Linked DNA regions of Homo sapiens: region 2 is linked to region 1. Evidence: fine-mapped expression QTL. A gene starts in region 1. The other region holds a variant in brackets. All regions are shown on one strand. Distances are from middle to middle. Region 1 holds the start of RNF220 (ring finger protein 220). Region 2 overlaps EIF2B3 (eukaryotic translation initiation factor 2B subunit gamma).

Region 1 (12,498 bases):
TTGTTCTGTTTCCTGTATCCAGAAACCCACACACTGGGGATCATTAGGTCCTCTGTGTCTTGGTCGGAGCTTGAGTACAGTATACTAATAGATCAATTTATGTGTTCATTCATTCAGCAAACATTTATTGAGCAGGCATGTCCTAGGCATTGGAGATACTAAGATGAATAAGACATAGTCACTGCCCTCAGTGACCTCCAGATGTACAAGAAGACACCAGCCTGAAGGCAGCTGGGGTCAGGGAACAAGGCAACTGAATATCCTCCATCAGGAAATCCTAAGAGAATAAAAAGACCAGTCTTGTAACATAAATATAAACATCTAATCAAATTAGCCAATTAGAAAAACATTTTTAAGAAAAGGCAATCTTTTACCAATTTGTCCTATGTATCTTTTGCATTTTTTCTCCCTAATTTCTTTGTCTCCAGTCTTACTCGTCTCCAGTCTACATTTAAAATTGCCTCCAATTTTATTTTTCTAAACCCTGATCTGATCATGTCATTCCTGTTTTGAGAATTTTCACTCATTCATTCTGCACTTTTTATCAATCACCTACTGGATGTTTCCAGTGAGTGTGAAGTGTTTGGGATGCAGTGGTACGCAAGCAGGCCCTACCTTCAAGAAGCTTTAGAATCTAGACCAGGTAGTACTTTCTGAATCTTGTCCTTTTATCTAAATCAGTTGAGTCCGACAGACACCAGTATCTGTTGTGCTAAGTACCACGCAAAACAACTAAGACAGAATTCTGCTTTAAGCAGATCAGAGTCTATTAGAGGAATCTGAAAACAATCGATAATTCCAGTACAATGTGATAAATGAATAGATGCATGCATAGACTGCTATGATAATCAGATTTGAGGAGAAGAGAGGCTGGTGGGCAGGGTGGCTTCCTGGAAGAGTCCATCCCAAACAAAGTCTTGAAGTATAAATAGGAGTTGGCTAGACACTGGGAGTGTCCAGTTAGTTCCTTAATGTGACAAACAAGATCTTTCACAGTCCATTAATCTATTTTTCCAGTCTCCCCTTATATCTTCTACATCTTTTTTTTCAGCTCCCAGCCCAATTTCTGAATGTTTTTCAAATTAGGAATGAATGCCCCTGGTTTATTTAGTGTTGTGCTTTGGATGTGAGAAAGCACCAAATAAATGTGGTGCATCTTTCTGGAGCATCAGTTCTATCAAATGATAAGTAATTTAAAACATGGTTTTATATTAAAGCTTAATATATTTGTGGAATTGAAGGCAAAATTTTCATTCATTTTTCAAGATAAAACAGGATACATAAATTTCAAGCTAGTGGCAAGCCATTTTAGGCTTGCCCTTAGACATCACCACCTGCACCACCTCTTTCTTGAGGAAAAATTTGAGATGTACTATCGGAATGTGGCAGGAAATTTCATGTGCCTTTGCATACGCTATTTGCTCATCCTGGAGTGCTCTTCCTATTTTTCTCCCTTGATAAACTACTTATCCTTCAAAGCCCAACTTAAGTGTCATTCCATATAACAGTCATTTTTAACGAAGCTTAAATGTCATCCCATATGATAGTTATTTTTTAAAACACCCACTTCTGTCTCTGCCTCCTTTCCTAATAGCTCCAGGCAGACTCAGCACCTCCTTCTTTTGTGTTTCTACCACCCTATACTCAGAATATCCATTATAGCACTGCTTTCATTGTGCCATATGTATTTGCTTTCCAATCCATCTCTGCTGTTGGACTATAAACCTCTCTAGGGCAGGCACTATTATTTATCTTTCTATTCTTAGTGACTGGCACTTGGTAGACACTCAATAAATGTTTGTTGAATTTGTGGACCATTCCTTACTCTGCATCACCTCTGTTCTTATATAAAGTGATATCTCCTTTACTTCTCATCTTCAGGGAATGATGTGTTACACAAAAGTATATTTTCCAGACAACTGAAATTTACTTCTTAAAGTATCAAAATCTTCTGTTTAAATCATTTTGGTAGGAATTTATTTTTCTATATTTTCACACGTGTGCTTACTCTCATAAGTAAAATATACTAAGTGTAATGTGTTCCTTGATGACCTATCCCCAAAAGTATCAGGATATGTTTGGTTGGAATTCATGACATCCGCTGGGAGCACTGATGGGATAGGGCTTTTTGCCTTCACACCAAATAACCCTATTTTGTTGTAGTTTTTGAGTTATGGTGCTTGCTTCTTATAGTTCGGTCACCATTTCTCATTGTCAGTGTTCTTGCTCTAACAACACTACCCTTTGCTCTTTTTATATACGTTTTAACGGATATTAAAATTACAAAACTAATATATGTTCACTGAAAACAAACAGAAGTCTATGGAGTAAAAAGTCAAAGTCCTCCCTTCATTCCTGTCTAACCCCCCACCCTGTCACGTCCACACTTTCACTCCCTAGCCATAACCATTGTTAACGGTTTAATGTATCCCTACAGGCCTTTTTCTGTCAATGTGTGTGTACACGTATACGGACAAATATCAAATCATATTGTACATACTGTTGTATGACTTGCTTTTCTCACTCGACAGTATATAATAGGTATCCTTCTATGTCAATACATCCTAGTCTATATCATTCTTTTTAATGGCTGCCCCCTTTTAATTTGACAATCTTAATCAGCTGTGAATGGGAAAGCCAAATAATCAAGCTTATTAGAATTGTACCTAAGAAAGAATAAATCGGCTCTGAATGAAGGCTTGTGTAATTCTCCTAGGAGGGAAATGTGTTAACTTTAGTGCATGGACTTTGTAATGTTTATTTTGGCTATTCTGGGACCCTTTTTGCTTATTTCCTGCTTCATTGTGTTTTGGATAGCTGAGGTTGCTGGACATATGACCTGTGAATTAGTGAGGTATTACATATTCAATTTTGCATTACATAATTTTGCTCTGATTTTATGAGGGATTTGCATTTAATTTATTCGTTTAGATTGCTGTTATAGACAGTGATTAATTCTAGTTTCTGAGTACTTGCATCGTAGTGAGGACCACTGCATGTGGTAACAGCTAAAAATATTTGGCTTGATGATTGAACAGGCCTTCTTATCTGTATCATCTATCTGTGAGAATGTGCACTGGATCTACGGGAACTCTCTAAGTTAGTCTGAGGGAGCCTTTTACTACTGATAAACATTAAAGTACTGACAACATCTTTTGCTATAAATAATAAAATCTTATTTAGGATTTATATAGAGTCTTCCTTCTGCCTTCATCCACCATACTAAAATGGCTAAATCCTGTTGATTCTACCTTTTAGATCTCACTGTAATGTGTCCCCTCCTCTCCACTCACTCTGCCCCAGTACCTTGGTTCAGGCCCTACTTCATCTCAACTGAATTACTTGAGATAGACTTTTTGATTGGCCTCCCTGCCTCTTGTCTAACCTCCACCTTGTCCACCCAGGAACTAGTGCTTGTTTTAAAACAGAAATCCTACCCTGTCACACCCCTAAAACCCTCTAGGGGTTTCTCATCATCTGTAGGATAACATCCACTTTCCTTAGCTTAGTATACAAAGCCTTTTGTGATTTGGCCCACTTCTCCTGCCTATCTCTTGCTGCTCAATGTTTCATATTTCAATTTTGAGGGAAATCAGTGGCTTATAATTCCTTTAACACACCAGGCAAGAGAGTTCTCGATAAATGCTTGTTAAATGAATGAATGAAATACCTTATGTAGCTAGGGTGACCATTCAATCTGCTTGGCCCAGGATGGCCCTTGTTGACATTTGTCATCCCAGTGTAATTATTAAAAGTGTCCCTTTTTTATCATCAAACTTGTCTCAGTTAGATCAATAAATTCTAAGGTCATCCTTATTACAGTGGTTATCAAATTGATTTCTAACTCTTTCTTTGTCTCCTCTACTAGATGGTGAGCTCTTTGAGGACAGGAGTTCATTTTTATATCCTCGTTTATTCATTCAACTAAGAGACTGATGCTGTAAGGTGCTTAGGGTATGATGTAGAATGCAACAAACATGGTTCTTGACTTCATGAAGTTTACAATCCAGCAGGAAATAATAATTTAGTGGAAAGAATAGAGCCTAACATAATAAATGCTGGTGTATGAATGAATGATTAAACATGGATTAGAAGTTCCTCAACAGGCCAGGCGTGGTGGCTCACCCCTGTAATCCCAGCACTTTGGGAGACCGAGACAAGCGGATCACTTGGGGTCAGGAGTTTGAGACCAGCCTGGCCAACATGGTGAAACCGTATTTCTACTAAAAATTATTTGGGCATGGAGGGGCATGCCTGTAATCCCAGCTACTTGGGAGGCTGAGGTAGGAGAATCGCTTGAACTCGGGGCGGAGGTTGCAGTAAGCCAAGATCACACCACTGCACTCCAGCCTGGGCGAGAGAGTGAGATTCCATGTCAAAAAAAATAAATAAATAAAAATAAAGTTCCTCAACAAATAATCCTGATATCACGAATTATAGAAATAGTTGTAAATGTAGAACTCTAAGTGATCAAATTAACAATTTATTTAGAGTTGCCAATTAAAATTTTAAAATACCAACAGCACACATATACATAAACATACTTAATATTTAGATGCTACCTTAATGTTAAACATAAGTAAAAAGGACAATGAAATAATAGCAAGAATGAGATTTTGAGTCTCATTCTTTTTAGACAATTTATAATCCTATGTGGTTCTCTGTAAAGTGGATTATCAGTGTGTACTCCATTTCTCCCCACCCTCCCTTTTTTTTTTCCAGATGAGAAATCTGAGGTTTTAGACACTTAACTACAAAACAAAAGAATGACTTTTTTTTTTTTTTTTTTTTTTGTCACCCAGGCTGGAGTGCAATGGTGTGATCTCGGCTCACTGCAACTTCCGCCTCCCGGGTTCAAGCGATTCTCCTGCCTTGGCCTCCTGAGTAGCTGGGATTACAGGCGCATGCCACCACGCCCGGCTACTTTTTGTATTTTTAGTAGAGACAGGGTTTCACCATGTTTGTCAGGCTGGTCTTGAACTCCTGACCTCTTGTTCCGCCCGCCTCGGCCTCCCAAAGTGTTGGCATTGCAGGCGTGAGCCACCGCGCCCGGCCAGGAATGACTTCTTAAACCAGGATTTGATTTTGGTTGAACTTTGCTTTCAGAACTAGAACTACCTGCTATCCAAGACTTGTTAACCACGTTTTCATGGGCAAATTACAAAACCCTTTCAACCCCAGTTTCCTCTTCTATAAACTAGTGGTAATATTATTATCTCCAGAATTAATCTTAGGAGTAAATGAAATTATGTAAAGGCATTTAGTCTCATAACCGGGCTCCTAGAAAGCACTCAGGAATGTTAGTTCTCTATCCATTTCCCCTGTTTATCTTTGTGTTTGATGAATTATAGGATGATATGAAATGATCTGAAATGAACTGTAATATAAACATCAATAAAACACCAATAAAAAATTTTATTCTCACATCTGGATGCTATACTAGGCCTTCACCTCCTCCAAAAGTTACAGTTTTATTAATATTCATTTATTATTTATTATTATAGTCAAAGACCCAGAGAAGCATTCCAGGAACAAAGCAGCAGGTAAGATTTTTCTGGGAAAAGACAGAGATTTTGAGGGACCCAGGATTTGGGGGTCATTTAAGCAGCAGTGGATGTCAGTCTTCAAGCTTTGCCCATTTACTCTTGGTCCCTTTTGGTTCAGGAAAGGAAGAACAACAAGCACGAAACCATTCACTGAGACCTTTGCGGGTGGGGGAGGAGGGATGTAAACAAAAGCCAACGCTCTCTTTAGTTCACAATGGCTCGCGACCCCAAGACTTCCAAGCTCTTTGGTGAGGGCCAGCAGGTCTGTTCTCCAGGAGTGCCCTGGGTCTGGACTTCATTTCCCAGAGTCCCTTAGTGCCCTAATGTATTCAGTGCTCAGAGTGCCTGTATGTGTGTGAGTGTGAGAGAATGTGTGCGTGCGTGTGTGTGTGCGCGCGTGTGTGTGTCTCCGAGTCCCTGGGAGAGTGGAGGCTCATTCACTGATTAGATCCAGCGCTGAGAGGCAGCACTGCTCCTTCTCTCACGCCAACTGAGTCTCTTGATCTGTACATGCAATCCCAGGCAGCTCGCGAACACAAACCCGGGGCCAGCCGCCTACTGCTGCTGCTGCTGCTGCCGCTGCCGCCGCCGCCGCCGCCGCTGCCTCCGCCGGCTCTGCGAACCCGGGACTTTTCATGCACCACACTCTCCGCCTGCTTCCCTCCGTGTCCTGAAAAGTGCGACCGTTCTCCCAAGGAATTTCCACGGCAAGTATGGAGATCAGAAAGGGGTGTGGACGTGTGTGCGTACCCAAGAGGGGTGGGTGCGAGGGCGGCCGGCTTGTTCAGGAACCTGGCTAACTTTCCGGGTCCGTTTCCTAGGGATTCGGGCGGTTCCCTCTGGACGGGGGCAGGGACTGGGACTCGGACTGGCGCGTCTTGGATCATCGCGACGGAGCCTCTCGGCATCGGCGCCCTGCGCGCTCCGTGCGCTGCCTCGCTCAAACTTTCCGTCTTGAGTTTTCCTTAATGTGTTTTATTTGGGGAGGGGGGGAGGTGCAAGGGGGAGGGACCAGACGCGGGAATTGGACAAGTTGGGAGGGTGAGGGCACTGCAAGGGAAGGGAGCAGGACTTCTTTTCTCCGTCTCTTAATAAGCCCCATTCCCACTTTGTTCGGGTCGATATCGAGAATGCCTTCTCGCCGGGCTCTCTGGTGCACCCCCCGGTGATTTCCGGGCTCCCCTATGTACCCCGCGTTGATTTCCGGCGAGGCCAGGGCTGGGTGGTACTCAGTGGGGAGCCCGAGGCGGCGGGCGGATGGAGAAGGGGCGAGCCGAATGAGAAACTACCCCGACAGCCTCCACCCCACACACAGCCGGCTCCGCGGGATACCCGGGGAGTGGCTGTTTAGCCCTGGACCCCGGGTGCTCGGCTGACTTTTTCCTAGCGGGGGCGGGTGTGAAGGGTGTGGAGGGAGGGAGGTGGGGTAGGATGGATGGATCCTCTGCGGGCAGGAAGGAGGCAGGTGCTAGCATAGAGGCGGACCGTTCTAAACGCCACCGGTAAACTCCCCACTCCTCTGGGCTGGACCGGCCTGGCCGTAGAGTAGCCCGACACGTGGGATCTCCCGGGATTTTCGGGGTCGGGACCCCCTCTCCCAGCGGTTCTACTGAGCAAGGCGGGAGGACGATCGTGGAGACGAGGGCTACTTGACTACTCTACTTGTAGTTTTATTTTTATCTTAGACCTGCCTTAAACTGAGTAACAATTTCTCTTCTGACTTAAGAACAAAACTTTTCAGTGAGCACGCCGGTCGCTGCGGTCCTGCGGCCACTGCCGCCGCGCTTGTCAGCCCGGGCCGAGCGACCTTCTCTGCCCGGAACCCAGCCCCGCCACCGCACTCCGGAGCCTCCGGCCTCCCCCACCCCACCCCCGCCCCCCAACCCGGGGCTTTTCAGGGCTCGGCCTGGGCGTTTCGCCTTTGTGCTTTGTAAGAGAAAGCCTTTTCTTCCAGGGCACAACAAACTTGGGCGGAGAGCTTCCGTGTGGCCCCCCGGGCGAGGCCGCCCACGGTGGTGAGGCCATCCGAGGGGATGCCCGGTTCATCCCCCAGTCCAGGAGCCTCTCCGAGAGCTCGCGGCCCAGGTCGACCCCAGCTGGCGAGGGCGCGCAGGAGTCCCGAAGTAGCGGGGACTAGGGCAGCCAGGAGGCAGGGGGAAAGCTCTCGCTTCCCGTTAAGCACACCCTGCATTCTCGGGTCGTGGATGCAGCTCCAGCGGAGAGCCCGTGTTCCGGCCCTGAGCCAGGCGCGCGTCGCACTGGGTGGGTGCATGGGGCCCGGGCCATAGGTGTGGGGGCACAGCCCTACCTGGCCGGCCCGGGTCGTCTGGGGTCTGCGCCGGCCCACTGGCCCGGGAGCCGCCGAGGGGGAGAGCACCGCACTCGCTGCCCACGACGCCCAGCAGCCACATCTTGCCTCTCGCCTCCGCTCCGGACTCGGCTTGAGGGGCAAAGGGGAGAGAAAGGAAAAATAAAGAAAAAAAAGGGCGGCAGTGAGGAAGCAGCGAGGGGACTGGGGGGAGCAGAGTGGGCAGGGGGGCTTTGCCTTGCCTGGCCTCCTCTTTCCGTCTCGCGGGCTCTTCCTGCAAAGGGGAATGAGCAGAGGGGGGAAAGGCAGAAAGAGCGTCGAGGAAGAGCGGTGCTGGCGTCTTCCGTGCCGATCCCTCCTGGCCCGCAGAGACCCGGCAAAAGTGGCGTGAGTTCGCTTGCTGCGCTTCGAGGCAAGGCTGGGGAAGGCCGAGGACGGGGCGGCGCCGCGTCGCGCCGCTGGTGGCCGACAGGGCCGGGGCCGGGCGCGGAGCGAGCGGGGACACACACCTGTTCTGCGAGCCGCGCGGTGTGCGGCGGCCGGACGGCCGCGGTGCGGGCCGCAGAACCCTCCCTCCCGCACTGCGCATCCGCAGTCCAGGAGCTGGAAGGGCCCGGCAGCCCCGCGCCGGTCCGTATTTGCAGGAGAAGCGGGAGTGGAGGAGTCCGCGGCTGCCCGCTGAAGCGGTGGTGCGCGCGGCGGCGGGACCCGGGTGACCCCCGGGGCGGGGCTGCTCGGGGGCTGGAGGTCCTTGGACTTTGGTCGAAGGCTGGCAGCTCTGAGCCCCTGCCCCGCGGGCCCCGCGCGGCTGCGGACCAGGGGCCCTTGCACGTGTCGGTTCTTCCTGGACTGGCGCTTTGGTTGCCCAAAGTTGGGCGCAGATTGTTTCGTGCGGAGGTTGTTGGGACCCAGAGTATTCTATATACAAAGGCAACCGAGAGCCGGAGGGAGAGGTCGGGCCAAAGAGTAGTGGGCTCGGCTCCGCGTTGGGCCCAAGTTTATGTAGGTTTCGCCTTCACCTCTTCTTCCCCCGTTTTCCCTAAAAGAGTTGATTTTTTTTCCCAGTCGAGACTCTTCCGAGCTGAATAATGCACCCGCTCGCTGAGCCAGTATCCCGCGACCCCGCACTCTCGGACTGGCCCGGGCTGTCTCGGATTCGCACCCTTTGGCCAAGCTGGGCCTGAACCCGGGTCCAAATCTGGGACCATACCCGGCCATGCCTGAAACACAGGCGTCGGCCCTAGCCCGGGAACTGTGTTAGCCTTATGTTCCCTGAGCTCTCGCATATGGTGGTAAAATTTCTGTTAGAGCGGTGTTTCCAAATACCCCCTGGGCATTTGGTGTGCGGGAATTCTCTTCAAGCGAAGAAGTCTGTGAACTTAAAAAAAAAATTTTTTTCCTGCGTTCTTAACAACCCCCCACTACTCTGCCTCATTTCCCATTGTTCTTTGCTTTTTAAGTTCCTTGTTAATTTTTTTAAAAGTTTATTTATGCAAAGGAAAAATATCGTTTAATTTGTTCTATTATTTTAATTCCTGGCTTTTGGAAACGGTTCAGAGACCACAAAACTGTCACCTGTTGTAATAAGCAGAGGAGTGTTGTGTGTGCATTTTAATTGCCAGCAGAGCCGTAGTTTGGTGGGCGCCCTGAGCTCGGCTCCGGGAAAGAGCCCTTTGCAGCTTTCTTTGTGGCAGTCATTTGCAAAGGGGTTTGGCTCTCAGCTACGGCGGAGGCAGAGGGGGCAGCAGCACCGCTTCCTTCTATGCCGATCCCGGGCGCAGGTCAGGAAGCCCAGACCTTGGACTGGGATGGGAGATTACCTACTCTCTGAGACTTTCTCTTGGGCTTTCGGTTTTTCTGTGCGAAAGTGGCTAGTTCGCTCCGCAGAGCGCGGAGCGCTGCGCATCAGCCCAGCCTCAGACATTTTCACGTTCCAAACGCGGACGTCTTCGTTTCATTTGTCTTGGTTCTGGCGTGTTTAACCACGCAATTAGTAATCTCACTAATTATTCAGATAGCTGGCGTTTTGCAATCACTTTAAACCAGGGTCAGGAGTGTGATTTAAGAAACAAACAAACTCCCACAGATACGGAACTGAACCAAACCCATCACGTCAAGGATTTGAAATTTTTTAACTCAATATTTGTTGGTCCCTCCGTCCAACCTCACTGCCTGCCAGACAATTTATTTAGCTTCGTGGATTGATCCCTCCTCCTTGTTTAGTTAATTCAACAAAGACTTTTTGCAATCTGTTTGGAGTTTGTCTGATGCCGTGGAAAAGTAGCTGATGATTTATTTGGTTGCTTTTCGATTTCTGTCTTCAGCCCTTCTTTCTCCTCCTTTCAGCGGGGATGTCAGCTGTTATTACTTCCTATTGATCCCTTTGCAAAGTGAGAAGTGAACTAAAATTAATGTCAATTCCACTGCTCGGATCAATAGCTGGAGTTATTTTAATCTGGATTTGCACGAAGTGCTAAATTAAAAAAAATCAGCATAGAGGCAGAAAAGTAACAGTTACTTACTTTCCCTTTGCCGGGTTCTTCACAGTCACCCAAATGCTCCATCAAGCTGATTATCTTACAATCCATATTTTTTTAATTAAGAGGGTCAGTTAGTTTTCTTATTTTGGGTTCTGTGTTTAAACCCATGACATTTTGACATTGGGAGTGTATTAACTATAGATTTTCATAATGACTGTGGTCAGCTGAAGCCTCATCTATACAAGTTGTTAATGTGAGGAGAGGGTAAGAAAGAAAAGGGAAAAGAAAAAAAAGAAAAAAAGCACTCCCCCCTCCCCCATGGAGACCAACGCCCACGCAATGAAGTAAAAGAGATGTGGCCTGGAAAAATATTGTTGATTTATTTTCAGTGTAATGAAGTTTTCAAATGAATAACCAGGGTTGAGTGATTCACCAGGTTCTGTTGGAGTGTCCGGTGCTGTCACCAGATTCCTAATTTATGAAACTCATTTAAGATAATGAGGTGATCTAGGAAGTAAAAATAGCAAGTGAATCCTGGGGGGGGTCGTATTTTGAGGGGGAAACATTCCTCCCTTCACATTTCTTTTCTCCAGTTTTCCTCATATAATATTGCTTGTTGATAGATAAGTAGCTATTTCTGTTGTGAAGAGCTGCTTAGAACCCTTGGAACAGCCCTAGACCCACTTTCAGAGCGTCCATGTTGTATGACCATTAATCTGACTAGAAAACAGCCAAGAACAGGATTCCCAGACTTGTCAGCCTAACTGGCTGTCCTTGGCAGATCATTCCCTGCACTGCTATAACTTGACAGGAAAGTTATTTAAAATTTGGAAGAGAGAAAAATCCGTTAATGTGAGATACATAATCTGGTAATTTAGCAATGATGTCTATAAGGAAAGATGCCAAATGAGGAAGCAGTCTGATGGTGTCCACTCATCTTCCCAATTAATAACAGTCATTGACATGTCTGCTACAGGATGGGAGAAGGAAATACTCTCTTTGCACTGCATTAAGCCAGGAGGATTCATCTACCGTTTAACTGATGTTTCTCTGTTTGAGGGAATACCAAAGATACTCCAGGTGGGCTTTTTAAAAGGGACGAGGTAGATTTTATTTCTGATATGACTCTCAATTTAAAGGTATAATTTGTAGCAGACGGTGATTTTTGGTTATGCTTTGAGTTTCACTAAGTTTCTATTTCGTGTATATTTTTGACACTAATAAGTCTTGGTATTCATCTTATATTGTCCCGGCTTTTGATATATAGCCCTTCTCCCAGCCCCCACTCAAAATACACTTTGGAATGGAACCACTGACTATGAAAATGTACAACCTAAATTTACAAGGGAAACTGAAAGAAGTCTCTCCGAACTCCAATTTGTTCCGGGGGCCTTTATTGGACATCAGCTCTGACTGGGCCAATAAGCAGAGCAAAATAAGTCAGAAATTTTGTTAACATTTTGTTCTAAATGTTAATGGCAAATCCAAGGCAGTTTACAAATCTACTTAAGAGTGAGTGCATTAGTAACTAAAATCACCGATCTGTTCTTTGCTGCCCTTAGAAGACAGATGCTTCTAGAGAGCGTATGCCAAAGGCACCCATTATGGTTTTAAGTGTTGTCAGAGACGCCAGGCATTTTATTGATGAAGGTTTTGTTCCTTCTCAGAAAAGAGAAATAGAAAGCCCATGTGATTAGAGAGAGGTGTGCCTCAAAATAAATGTTAATGCTGTTTGTTCATATAGCACTTTTTTCTGGAAACAGTCTTAGATGATACATGAAGATGTGTGTGTGTGTGTATATGCCAATGTGTATCTTTTATCCATGTGTATACTTTGTACTAACTAATATGTACAAGTGTTCCTGGTCTAGATGAACTTGAATTAGGGATATTTCAGTATCAGGGTGTTGTTAGGGGAGATGAAGAGAGGATGCATATGTGGGGAATCGTATAGGTAGAATGTGGTCTCTGAACATCAGGCCTGCCATGAGTGGTGGATGCAGGTGGAAGCACTTTAAAACATAGACCCCCACTTAATCTACTGGATGGCTTGGCCTTCCAAAGCTCATTTGTTCAGAGAATATCGTATTTGGAGGTTTTATGATATTTTTTTCTTTGCTGGGCTCAGGCGCATTTCACCCAGAACGTGTAGGGACCAAAGTCA
Region 2 (12,498 bases), 530 kb after region 1:
AACAGAGAGAGACTGTCTCAAAACGAACACACACACACACACACACACACCCCTATAGTAATAAACATCATTTTAACTGGAGAGATGTTGAAAATATTCCTTTTAAAATCAGGAATGAGAAAAGGGTGCCAACTAGCATCATTTGTACACATAATTTTATTGGAGGTCCTGGCCAGCACAGTAAGACAAGAAAAAGAAACCAGAAACTTAGACTACTGGGTGGGGGTGGGAAGTCTACAGCCATATCACCCTGAAGGCATCTGATCTCATCTGATCTATGCAGGGTCAGGCCTAGTTAGTACTTGCATGGAAGTCTGCTTAGGAATACCATGTGATAAACAAACAAACAAACAAACAAAAAACTATTGTGAGACCTTTGTCAAAGAATACAAAATTTCACTTAGGAGGAATAAGCTCATAAAGAGACCTAATACAACCTGGTGACTAGTTAGTAACAATGTATTGTATTCTTGAAAATTCCTAAGAGAGTAGATTTTAAGTGTTCTCACTTGAAGAACTTCGGAAACAAAAAGATCCTATAAGCTCCCCCTCCCATCCCAAGAAAAAGAGGAAAAAAGTGTTTCATGCAAAGAATCAAGAATCAGAATGATGTTGGACTTCTTAAAAGAAAAGCTAGAAGACAGTAAAACAAAACAAAACAAAACAAAACAAAAAACCTTCAAAATTTTGAGGGGATATGATTTCCAAGAGAAGTTTATATCCAGCCAAAATATGAAACAAATATGTGGGCAGAATAAAGACACTTTCAGGGATACAAAAGCTCAAAAATTTACTTCTCACAATCTGTACCTCAGGAGGCTTCCAGAGGATGTGTCCTACAGAAAATGTGGGTATAAAGTAAGAAAGAAGAAAACGTGAGGTTCAAGATATGACAGTGAAGGGTGAACCTAAAATGACAGCTCTACAGCAGGGCAACTAACTCAGGTTAGAAAAGCTTTAGGAGAGGTACCTTGAAGAATTTGAAATTGAGAGGACATCTAGTGTGTTGCAATGTAAGGAGAGGAAATTCACACAATTGGAGCTTGGGTTGAATTAGTGACAAATACATAAAAAACAAGCAAATGAAAAAACAAGACAATCTTTAGGAAAACAAAAGGAGGAAAGAGAAAAGTAATCATATACTACAAGGCTCAACTGTGAATACTATTTATACAGTCATGATAATATAAACATAAAATATTCAGTTAATTAATAATACAATATGAATAACTATATTAGGAAATTGGGCCAAATACAAGGTTGCATACATGTAGTGGGGGCAGAGCATGTGGTAAAATAGAACCAAATCTTTACATTCTATAGTAAGAAGTGAACAGATAATTCTTAAAGCTAAAAAAATTAAGACACAGAAAATAAAAGCACGTTATTTGGAGATATGGAGTTAAATGCCAAAAAATTAGCTGAAAATGTTGAAAGTGGCATCTCTAAGTGGGGTGAGGATAGATAGGGTGAGGGGCTGCTATTTATTATAATATATCTTAGATAATTAGATACTCTTTAAATTTTGGGCATATAAAACTTTGATAAAGATAAAAACTAAATTCAAAAAAGAAATAGCACAGGTTATGGAATCAGAAGGCATGGGTTTGAGTTCTGGCTCTTACCACTTACCACTGATGTTATCTCGAGCAACTGTCCACAAAATGCTATTAGGCCATAAATGCTATTAGGTCAAAATGCTATTAGGCCATAAAAAACAAGACAAACACTTGGTAAATAAGAAAATTATGGCTGGGCACAGTGGCTCACACCTGTAATCCCAGCACTTTGGGAGGCCGAGGCGGGAAGATCACCTGAGGTTGGGAGTTTGAGACCAGCCTGACCAAAATGGAGAAACCCCGTCTCTACTAAAAATACAAAATTAGCCAGGCATGGTGGCACATGCCTGTAATCCCAGCTACTAGGGAGGCTGAGGCAAGAGAATCACTTGAATCCAGGAGGTGGAGGTTGCGGTGAGCCAAGATCGTGCCATTGCACTCCAACCTGGGCAACAAGAGTGAAACAGGCTGGGCACAGTGGCTCACACCTGTAATCCCGGCACTTTGGGAGGCTGAGGCAGGTGGATCACGAGGTAAGGAGTTCAAGACCAGCCTGGCCAAGATGGTAAAACCTCGTCTTTACTAAAAAATACAAAAAATTAGCTAGGTGCAGTGGCAGGCGCCTGTAATCCCAGCTACTCGGGAGGCTGAGGCAGGAGAATCACTTGAACTCGGAGGGCAGAGGTTGCAGTGAGCCAAGATTGTGCCACTGCGATCTAGCCTGGGTGACAGAGTGAGACTCTGTCTCAAAAAACAAAACAAAACAAAACAAAATTCAATTTTGAGTATGTAGGAATTTCAAGTCACTTTATTTTTATTTTGTTTTTTAAATTTTTTTAATTTTTTATTATTTTTTATTTTATTTTTATTTTTTGAGAAGGAATTTTGTTCTTGTTGCCCAGGCTGGAGTGCAGTGGTGATCCCAGCTCACTACAACCTCCACCTCCCAGGTTCAAGCAATTCTCCTGCCTTAGCCTCCCAAGTAGCTGGGATTACAGGCACCCACCACCACGCCCAGCTAATTTTTGTATTTTTAGTAGAGACAGGGTTTCACCATGTTGGCCAGACTGGTCTTGAATTCCTGACCTCAGGTGATCCACCCACCTCAGCCTCCCAAAGTGCTGGGATTATAGGTGTGTGCCACACGCCTGGCCCACTTTATTTTTTAAAATGGGGTGGGATTTGGAAGACTGAGAGGAGAAAATAGTTAACACAGAAGCCCAAACAGGTTTTTTTTTGGTAGTACAGCTTCAAGAGAAGTAAAGAAAGCTGTAGCAAAAGAAATACTGTACAGGCTCAGAACTGCCTGCCAACATCTGTTAGTGCAGAGGGAGCTAAGCCGATTAAGAGGTGACAGCCAAGTAAGAGTTTTCACTCATGGTTCTGAAGTACATTAACATGTACTGATTCTAGTCTGGGCCAAGGCCATATAACTCTGAGAACTAAGGAGTTTGGGAAATACTACAGTGAATTGGATTGGTTAAATAAAGTTTCCTAGAACATTTTCTATTTCAAGTATTCCAAGAGATACAGTGGGACTATAGAGACAATAGTCAATGATTTGTGTCATTAAATCATGATAGTATTAAACAATTACATAGAGGAATGTACAGGAAAAAAAGCCCCCTAATAAACATATTATCTGCAATAAAGCAATATAAATATATTATCTTCTCACTGAAATTGAGAAAAGGAAAGTTTCTAACAAGGGATGGAAAACAAATTATTTTTACATATTATTGCAAGTTTAAGATATATATGCATATACGGTGTCACTGAAATTCTCTATGTGTCGTCTTTACTGTTTGATGTTTGTGAATGTAAACAATTACAAATGAGAGGCTTTTATAAATTCTTTTTTTATTTTGGAGATGGAGTCTTGCTCTGTTGCCCAGGGTGGAATACAGTGGCGTGATCTTGGCTCACTGCAACCTCTGCCTCCCGGGTTCAAGCAATTCTCCTGCCTCAGCCTCCCGAGTAGCTGGGACTACAGGCATGTGCCACCACACCCAGCTAATTTTTTTGTATTTTTAGAGAGAGAGGGTTTCACCATGTTGGTCAGGCTGGTCTCAAACTGCTGACCTCAAATGATCCTCCCACCTTGGCCTCCCAAACTGCTGGGATTATAGGCGTGAGCCACTGCACCCAGCCTGTAAATTCTTTTAAAAACACAATACCTAGTCTAATTTTCCCCATCAGACTCCAAGTTTCTTAAAATGCCCTATGACTGGGGAGAGTACAATGAACACTTTTTTGTGTCTCCTTGAGGGTAGGGATATTGTGGCATTTTGGTTTTTTTTTTTTTCTGTTTCTATAGCCTTGGTGCCTAGTTCAGGAGTTGGCATAATACATACTCAGTAACTGTGGTAAGCTGATCTCTTCACCCTTTCACTCAGTAAGTAGTATCAAGCAATGGCGAGACAATGGCTGAATAATAATGGTATCTACTGATGAAAAAAAAGAAATGAGGTTTCTCAGAGTTTAGAACCCCATTTCCCCGCACAGCCTTAGCTGGGTTTCTGGGTCTTGCTTACACTTCTAAGTTGTCCATTTCTTTCCTGAGAAAAAAATTTTTTTTTCAAAAGTTGGTACATTCTAGAAAATGCTAGAAAGCAGGGCTGTTTGAATCACTAGAAAAGTTACATGTGGGCTGGGCGCAGTAGCTCATGGCTGTAATCCTAGCACTTTGGGAGGCCAAGGCGGGTGGATCACTTGAGGTCAGGAGTTCAAAACCAGTCTGGCCAACATGGTGAAACCCCATCTCTACTAAAAATACAAAAAAAAAAAAAAAATTAGCTGAGCGTGGTGGTGGACGCCTGTAAACCCACCTACTCAGGAGGCTGAGGCAGGAGAATTGCTTGAACCCGAGAGGCAGAGGTTGCAGTGAGCCAAGATCGCGCCATTGCACTCCAGCCTGGGTGACAGAATGAGACTCTGTCTCAAAAAAAGTTACATGTGAGCCTTCCAGAGAGGCTTGTCTAGACATTTGTCACTATGAGTTTCCCTTCAAACTTACAAGCTATTATGGTAAAAATGCAAACAAAAACACTCTGATATTCTGTGGTTTTTTAAAGTACTGCCATTTTACATGAAATAAATATGTGATATAGAATGTTTACAAAGTTATTAAATGAGATTTGTTAAGTTTCAGTACCAAATTACAATAGTAATTACAAATTATTAAGCATCTACTATCTTTCAGGTAACGAATGGGCCACATGCCTTATAAACATGTCATTTAATTCTCACAAAAATCCTGAAAGGATTCAGGCTCACTTTACAACAGAAGAAAATGAAATTCATGAAGATCAAGGTAATTTGCCCAAAATCCCACAGCTTTTGAGCACTGAAACCCAGTCTGAACTCTATAGACCTTGTGCTCTTAACAATCATGGTGCAGTGCTGGGTATTTTTTTAAAAATCTTGAAACCATTTCTAAACATAAAATTAATAGACAATGTAGTCAGTATCAGTCTGCTAGATCCATATTGCTAAAAGCATTACAAGCTCACGCGCTCTTGTAATACCTACTTATGAATCCAACTATAGCTCAGACTAACATCTTTAGGATTTTAAACTGCTAGTGCTCAGGTCTATCTTCACTTACCTGGGGTGGGGGGCAAGAAGAGCTGCCTTTATAAGCAGGCCATTCAATAATATTTATTGATTGTTCACCATGGGACATAACTGGGCCAGGTGCTGGGAATAAAATAAACAAAACAGATATGATCCCTTCCCTTATGGAGCTTATAGTCCAGTAGGGGAAAGAGTAAATAAGAGAGCAGGCTGCTATATGTAGGCAAACAAAAGGATATAGTTTATATTAAAAGGTCAGGATAGGTCTTTCTCAGAAATAACTTGAAGGCTAAGCTGGATTTGGAATATATGTGTTCGGAGGAGAAAGGGACTAGAGAGCATTTCAGGCAAGGAAGCTGTGTAAAGACCTGCAGCAGACCGGGCGCGGTGGCTCACGCCTGTAATCCCAGCACTTTGGGAGGCCGAGGCGGGCGGATCACGAGGTCAGGAGATCGAGACCATCCTGGCTAACACAGTGAAACCCCGTCTCTACTAAAAAACACAAAAAATTAGCCGGGCGTGGTGGCGGGCGCCTGTGGTCCCAGCTACGCGGGAGGCTGAGGCAGGAGAATGCCGTGAACCCGGGAGGCGGAGCTTGCAGTGAGCCGAGATCGCGCCACTGCACTCCAGCCTGGGCGACAGAGCGAGACTCCGTCTCAAAAAAAAAAAAAAAAAAAAAAAAAAAAAAAAAAAAAAGACCTGCAGCAGGAATGAAATACTCCAAAAAGTCTAAACATGAATTTGATCCTGCCCTCTTAGTATCAGTATCTCCTATAAATTTTCTGAGAAGAAAGTGCAAGGGGAAGAAAGGTGGCTCCAGAAACATCCAGAGATTAGCCATTCCCCTATAAGTCAGTAAGAACGCCATTTGAGGAAGTTGGGTCTAGAAGATCTAGACTATTAAACAATATCTGGGAAACAGTGGACTGCAGGCTGTTCTGGCACACAACAGCAGCCAAGAGGCATGCCAAATATATAATCTGAAAAACTTACGATTCTTTAAAAAATGCTTATGATGGAAATGCATAGCATTCTATGGGAGGAATTTAAAACTCAATTATTTAGGTGAATCTTAGCCTTCAAATGTAACAAAATATAGGTATTGAGAAGTTTAAAATTTCATATTAAGAATGAAAACTTGACAGGAGTGATGGCTGGTACCTGTAATACCAGCTACTTGGCAGGCTGAGGTGGGAGAATTGCTTGAGGTCAAGAGTTTGAGACCAGCCTGGGCAACATAATGAGACCTAATTTCTCTCTCTCTCTCTCTCTCTCTGTTTTTTTTTGGGACAGAGTGAGACTCTGGAGTGCAGTGGCATGATCATGGTTCACTGTAGCCTCGACATCCCGGGCTCAAGTGATCCTCTCACCTCAGCCTCCCAGGTAGCTGGGACTAGAGGCTCACAAGCCACCATGCCCAGCTAATTTTTAAAAAATTGTTTGTAGAGATGGGGTTTCACCATGTTACCCAGACTGGTCTCAAACTCCTGGGCTCAAGCCATCTGTTTGCCTCAGCTTCCCAAAGTGCTAGGATTACGGTCCTGAGCCATGGTGCCCCCCAGTATCTTTTTAAAAAGAAAGAAAGAAAGAGGCCAAGTGTGGTGACTCATGCCTCTAATCCCAGCACTTTGGGAGACTGAGGC[AG/A]GGAGATTGCTTTTGAGCTCAAGAGTTCGAGGCCAGCCTGGGCAACATTGTGAAACCCTGTGCCTACAAAAAATACAAAAAGTTAGCCAGGCATGGTGGCGAGTGCCTATAGTCCCAGTTACTCGGGAGGCTGAGGTGGGAGGATTGCTTGAGCCCAGGAAGCAGAGGTTTGCAGCGAGCCAAGATTGAGCCACTGCACTCTAGCCTCGGCAACAGAGTAAGACCCTGTCTCAAAAAAAAAAAAAAAAAAAAAAAAAGAAACAAAAGGAAAGAAAAATCTTCTTAAAACATTAATCTAATCTAATTATGACACTATCTTGTTTACTTCAACAACTTCCTCACTGTTTTGGGCAAGAATTCAAACTCTTTCGTCTGATATCTGGCTCTTCTCCAGTCCTATCTGCTTCTCTGCCTCCTATATTCACACTCCAGCTATAGAAAGTTACCAGTATACATCATACTTTTTCAGAGGATAAAGGATCCAGCTTAAAGGACTTCCATTGGCCAAACTGACAATTTAAGCATGAAAACATTTAAAAATGGATGGTAGGTAGCTAATAGTTACAGTTAATTTAAAATAGAATTATGTTGTAAATATAGTTAACAAGAGTATTGTACATTTCAAAATTGCTAAGAGAGTAAATTTCAAATGTTCTCACCATGAAAAATGTTAAGTATTTGAGGGATGGATATGTTAACCTGTTTAATTTAATTATTCCACATTGTATACATAAATTATAACATCGCTTTGTATCCCATAAATTTATACAATTATAAATTGTTAAATTTACAATAAAAGAAAAGGAATTGTGAAAATCTGTGCATTTATAATGATACTTAAGACATAAAAACTATATATAAAGTGTATTAAAAAGTTTTATCAATGCCTATGAAAAGGGAGAAAATTTAAAGAAAAGTTCTAATGACAAGAAGAATAAGTTGATTTTTTAATTGATTTTTATAAATAGAGTACAAAGGAAACAAAAAAATTAATTATGAAACATATATCTGTTTATAAAATCTGGTTATATATTTATTTCTATCTGTGTAGGCAGAAAAGAATGAATACAGGGAATTGTAAGTAAACCAGACCTTGCAAAAGCAGAAACTATATGAAGAACAAAAAGACTGATCAGCATGAGTATCATCACATAACAATAATGTAGAAAAAGTATCCAACAATTAATCTGCACCAGTGATCATCTGAACACAAAAAGCAACTAGAAACAAGTTTCAATGTTATACTGGAAAATTATAATTTAACCAAACGTCCTAAAATATTAACTAGATTATTCAAATCCTAAGTATGAAGGCTCTCAGTGGCTCTATTAATAATAGTAAGAAATTAATAAGCTATACATAGTCTAATAATTGTAACAAAATATGCCAACATATAATAATGACAAAATAGTGGGTTACATAATGCTGGCAAAGCAAAACCTAAAGAATACATCATTCCAGAGGAAAACTTCAAGGAAAAAAACACATCATTCAGGAAAATTTAAACCCATAAAAGGACTACTAGAATCCTAGGAAAATAAGTATCAAAATAAGTATGTTACAATCAAAATAAGTATGTTATAATCCTAGGAAGATAAGCATGATTAACAACTATCAGCTGGGCACAGTGGCTCATGCCTGTAATCCTAGCACTTTGGGAGACAGAGGCAGGTGGATCACGGGGTCAAGAGATAAGTAAGAGACCATCCTGGCCAACATGGTGAAACCCCGTCTCTACTAAAAATACAAAAATTAGCTGGGTGTGGTGGCATGTGCATGTAGTCCCAGCTACTCGGGAGGCTGAGGCAGGTGAAGTGCTTGAACCCGGGAGGTGGAGATTGGAGTGAACCGAGATGGTGCCACTGCACTCCAGCCTGGCAACAGAGCGAGTCTCCATCTCAAAAAAAAGAAAGAAAAAGAAAAAGAAAAAGAAACAACTATCACATTTATTGGTCATTTAGGGTGACTGAAGCATTGAAAGAACCAGCCATACTAAATTTGTGATAGTAACTTTAATTCCTTTTCTCCCCCCACCGAGATGGAGTCTTGCTCTGTTGCCTAGGCTGGAGTGCAGTGGCGTGATCTCGGCTCACTGCAACCTCCCCTTCCTGGGTTCAAGCAATTCTCCTCCCTCAGCCTCCTGAGTAGCTGGGATTACAGGCACACGCCACCACGCCCAGCTAATTTTTGTATTTTTAGTAGAGATGGGGTTTCACCATGTTGGCCAGGCTGGTCTCAAACTCCTGACCTTGTGATCCCCCTGCCTCGGTCTCCCAAAGTGCTGGGATCACAGGTGTGAGCCACCGCACCTGGCCTATTTTTAAAAGTTAATTTTAAATTGGATTTTTGTTTGTTTGTTTCTTAGATATACGTATTCAATTATTTGAGCCTTAAATACAATGCAAATAGTTCTGAATGTTCCTCTCTGCATACAAAAGGACATTAAAGAATCTAATCAATAGTTCTAAGCATTTTCCATTCAGGGACTGTGTCTTATTTGACTTTATGTCATCAACTCCTAGCACAGAATCTGTGATGTATAGTAGATTCTTAATAAATGTTTTTTCAGGGAAAGCATGAGTGAGAATAATAATTACGAAAACTCAACAAACAAAACAAACTCCAATCTTCCTTACCTGCTTTTTTTTTCCCCTTTTGACCGGGAACAGGTTCTATGCTATCTTGGCCTTTTCTCATCAACATAGCAAGTGATGCATCATAAGCTCTAAACAGGTCCACAACCTCATGTAAGGCAACGTCTGTTATCAGATCACAGCTCAGCACCAGCACATCTGTCTGTTAAATGGAGATGGGAAAAGTCAATATCATAAAGGACAATGGATTACACAAATCATCACAAGACAAAATTAGGATGGCTTAAAACCACACAAATCAGACAATACTCTTCAAGCATTTTTCATAGCCAAACAAGTAAAATAAATGGGGTTGTTCTCATTGAATTGTGCTGGTATAGGGTCTGGAAACTCTACCTCTCCCTTGTGTACCTCAGGAACTGTGTGGGCAGTCCCTGAGACATCTCTGGAACCCTAGGTTCTAAGAAACAGTCTGAAAACCACCACATTGTCTATTTCTATGACTATGGAATATATGATCTTATATTTATACATCTCTTTATAGTTTAAAAGAGCATTTTCACATAGTTTGATGACTTAATATGGCAAAGAACAATCACTTTACTACAGTACTAGGAAATAACAGGATGAACAGAATACAATGCTTCATTCTTAGGAACTTAACATTCTATAGTAAATAATTACAATGTAACCTCAGGTATGTACAAGGCACCCATTCAATCTTATAAAAATAGCATAAGAATGACAGAAAGGCATTGTTATTATTAATATTACTGGCCTCTATTTTTATAGCTGAGAAAAATAAGGCCTGTTACCAGTGTCTGACACACAGTTGGTATTTAATAATTGTTTAACAAATGAATGAATAAATCAACGAAGAAAAGGTTTTCTCTTATTGGTGGGCTTTCTGATTTTATATATATATATATATATATATATATATATATATATATATTTTTTTTTTTTTTTTTTTTTTTTTTTCCAGACAGGGTCTTACTCTGTCACCTAGACTGGAATGCAGCGGTGCGGTCACAGCTCACTGCAGCCTCGACCTGCCAGGCTCAAGTCATCCTCCTGCCTCAGCCTCCCAAGTAGCTGGGACTACAGGTATGTACCACCACACTTGGCTAATTTTTACATTTTTTGTAGAGATGGTGTCTCCCTATGTTGCCTAGGCTAGTCTCAAACTCCTGGGTTCAAATGATCCACTCACCTCGGCCTCCCAAAGTGTTGGGATTATAGGCATGAGCTACCATGCCTGATTATAATTCTAATATCTCAGATTAATTATAATAAAAACTAACAATGATAACTAATGTTTACTGAATGCTTACTATTGGCCAGGAATTGTGATAACACTTTGCAAACATTATTTATTTTATTTTATTTTATTTTATTTATTTATTTTTTGAGACAGAGTCTCCCTCTGTTGCCCAAGCTGGAGTGCACTGGCAAGATCTCGGCTCACGGCAAGCTCCGCCTCCCGGGTTCATGCCATTCTCCTGCCTCAGCCTCCTGAGTAGCTGGGACTACAGGCGCCCGCCACCACGCCCGGCTAATTTTTTTTGTGTTTTTAGTAGAGACGGTGTTTCACCGTGTTAGCCAGGATGGTCTTGATTTCCTGACCTCGTGATCCACCTGCCTTGGCCTCCCAAAGTGCTGGGATTACAGGTGTGAGCCACCACGCCCGGCCTTATTTTTTATTTTAATTTTATTTTTAAATTAAAAAAAAAATAGAGACAGGGTCTCACTATGTTTCTCACTATGTAGTCCAGGTTGGTCTTGAACTGGTGGGCTCAAACAATCCTGTCTCAGCCTCCCAAAGTGCTGAGATTACAGGTGTGAGCCACCACGCCTGGCCAAAAACATATTTCAATCTTCACAACAACCATATGCAGGAAGAACTATCTATATCTATATCTATATCTATATCTATATCTATATCTATATCTATATCTAAATTTTTGTTTTTTTGAGACAGGGTCTTGTTCTGTTACCCAGGCTGGAGTGCAGTGGCATGATCATGGCTTACTGCAGCCTCGACTTCCTGGGCTCAAGTGATCCTCCCACCTCAGCCTCCCTAGTAGCTGGGACTACAGGCGTGCCCCACCACACCTGGCTAATTTTTATTTTTATTTTTAGTAGAGACAGGGTCTTCCTATGTTTCCCAGGCTGGACTCGAACTCCTGGACTCAAGCAATTTGCCCACTTTGGCCTCCCAAAGTGCTAGGAGTACAGGCGTGAGCCACCGCGCCTAGCCCAGAGCTGTTATTATTAGCACTTTACCAACGAAGAAACAGATTTATAGTAGTTATGTAACTAAGATTTAACAATTAGTAATGGCTATTTGTATAACTAAAGAATCTGTATTACTGAATAGTGTTAAAGAAATATAGTTTAGGCTGGGCGCAGTGGCTCATGCCTGTATCCCAGCATTTTGGGACGCCAAGGTGGGCGGAGTGCCTGAGTTCAGGAGTTTGAGACCAGCCTGAGCAACACAGTGAAACCCTATCTCTACTAAAATACAAAAATTAGCCGGGCATGGTGGCACATGCCTATAGTCCCAGCTACTCGGGAGGCTGAGGCAGGAGAATTGCTTGAACCCAGGAGGTGGAAATTGCAGTGGGCCGAGATAGCACCACTGCACTCCAGCTTGGGTGACAGAGCAAGACTCTATCTCCAAAGAAAGAAAAAAAAGAAACATAGTTTAGGGCCAGGCACAGTAGCACATGCCTGTAATCCCAGAGGTGCCTCAGGGAAAGGCAGGTTCTGATTTGCCCTTCGTGAATCAACCAAGGCAGCTCCTCTTTTATTAATTTTATTTTCCAGGCTTCTGGATAAGCTTTGTCTTGGAAAACCAATTATGCTACTTTAAAAAAGTCTAGGCTGGGCAGAGTGGCTCACACCTGTAATCCCAGTGCTTTGGGATGCCAAGGCAGGAGGACTGCATGAGCCCAGGAGTTCAAGGTTAGAGTGAGCTATGATCACATCACTGCACTTCTGCCTGGGTGACAGTGCAAGATGCTGTCTCAAAAAAAAAAAAAAAAGGCCTGGCACAGTGTCTTGCACCTGTAAGCCAAGCTACTCTGGAGGCTGAGGCAGGAGCATCACTTGAGGCCAGGAGT

What was found. PIP is the estimated chance that this variant, and not a neighbour inherited with it, causes the effect.
Region 2: its variant is the best candidate, but not a certain one, in a credible set for the expression of RNF220 in whole blood (TOPMed, PIP 0.65).

What each region holds. Positions count from the first base shown.
Region 1 is chr1:44,399,274-44,411,771 of GRCh38, forward strand. RNF220 (ring finger protein 220) reads left to right here and starts at 5,982. Exons shown (of 15, transcript NM_018150.4): 1 at 5,982-6,257. RefSeq lists enhancers at 6,875-7,397, 9,164-9,840.
Region 2 is chr1:44,932,091-44,944,588 of GRCh38, forward strand. It overlaps EIF2B3 (eukaryotic translation initiation factor 2B subunit gamma), which reads right to left. Exons shown (of 12, transcript NM_020365.5): 4 at 9,416-9,575. It also overlaps the pseudogene RNA5SP47. Among named protein-coding and RNA genes, the nearest start is that of EIF2B3, 48 kb to the right of the region's middle. The variant AG/A (reference allele first, on the strand shown) is at 6,779.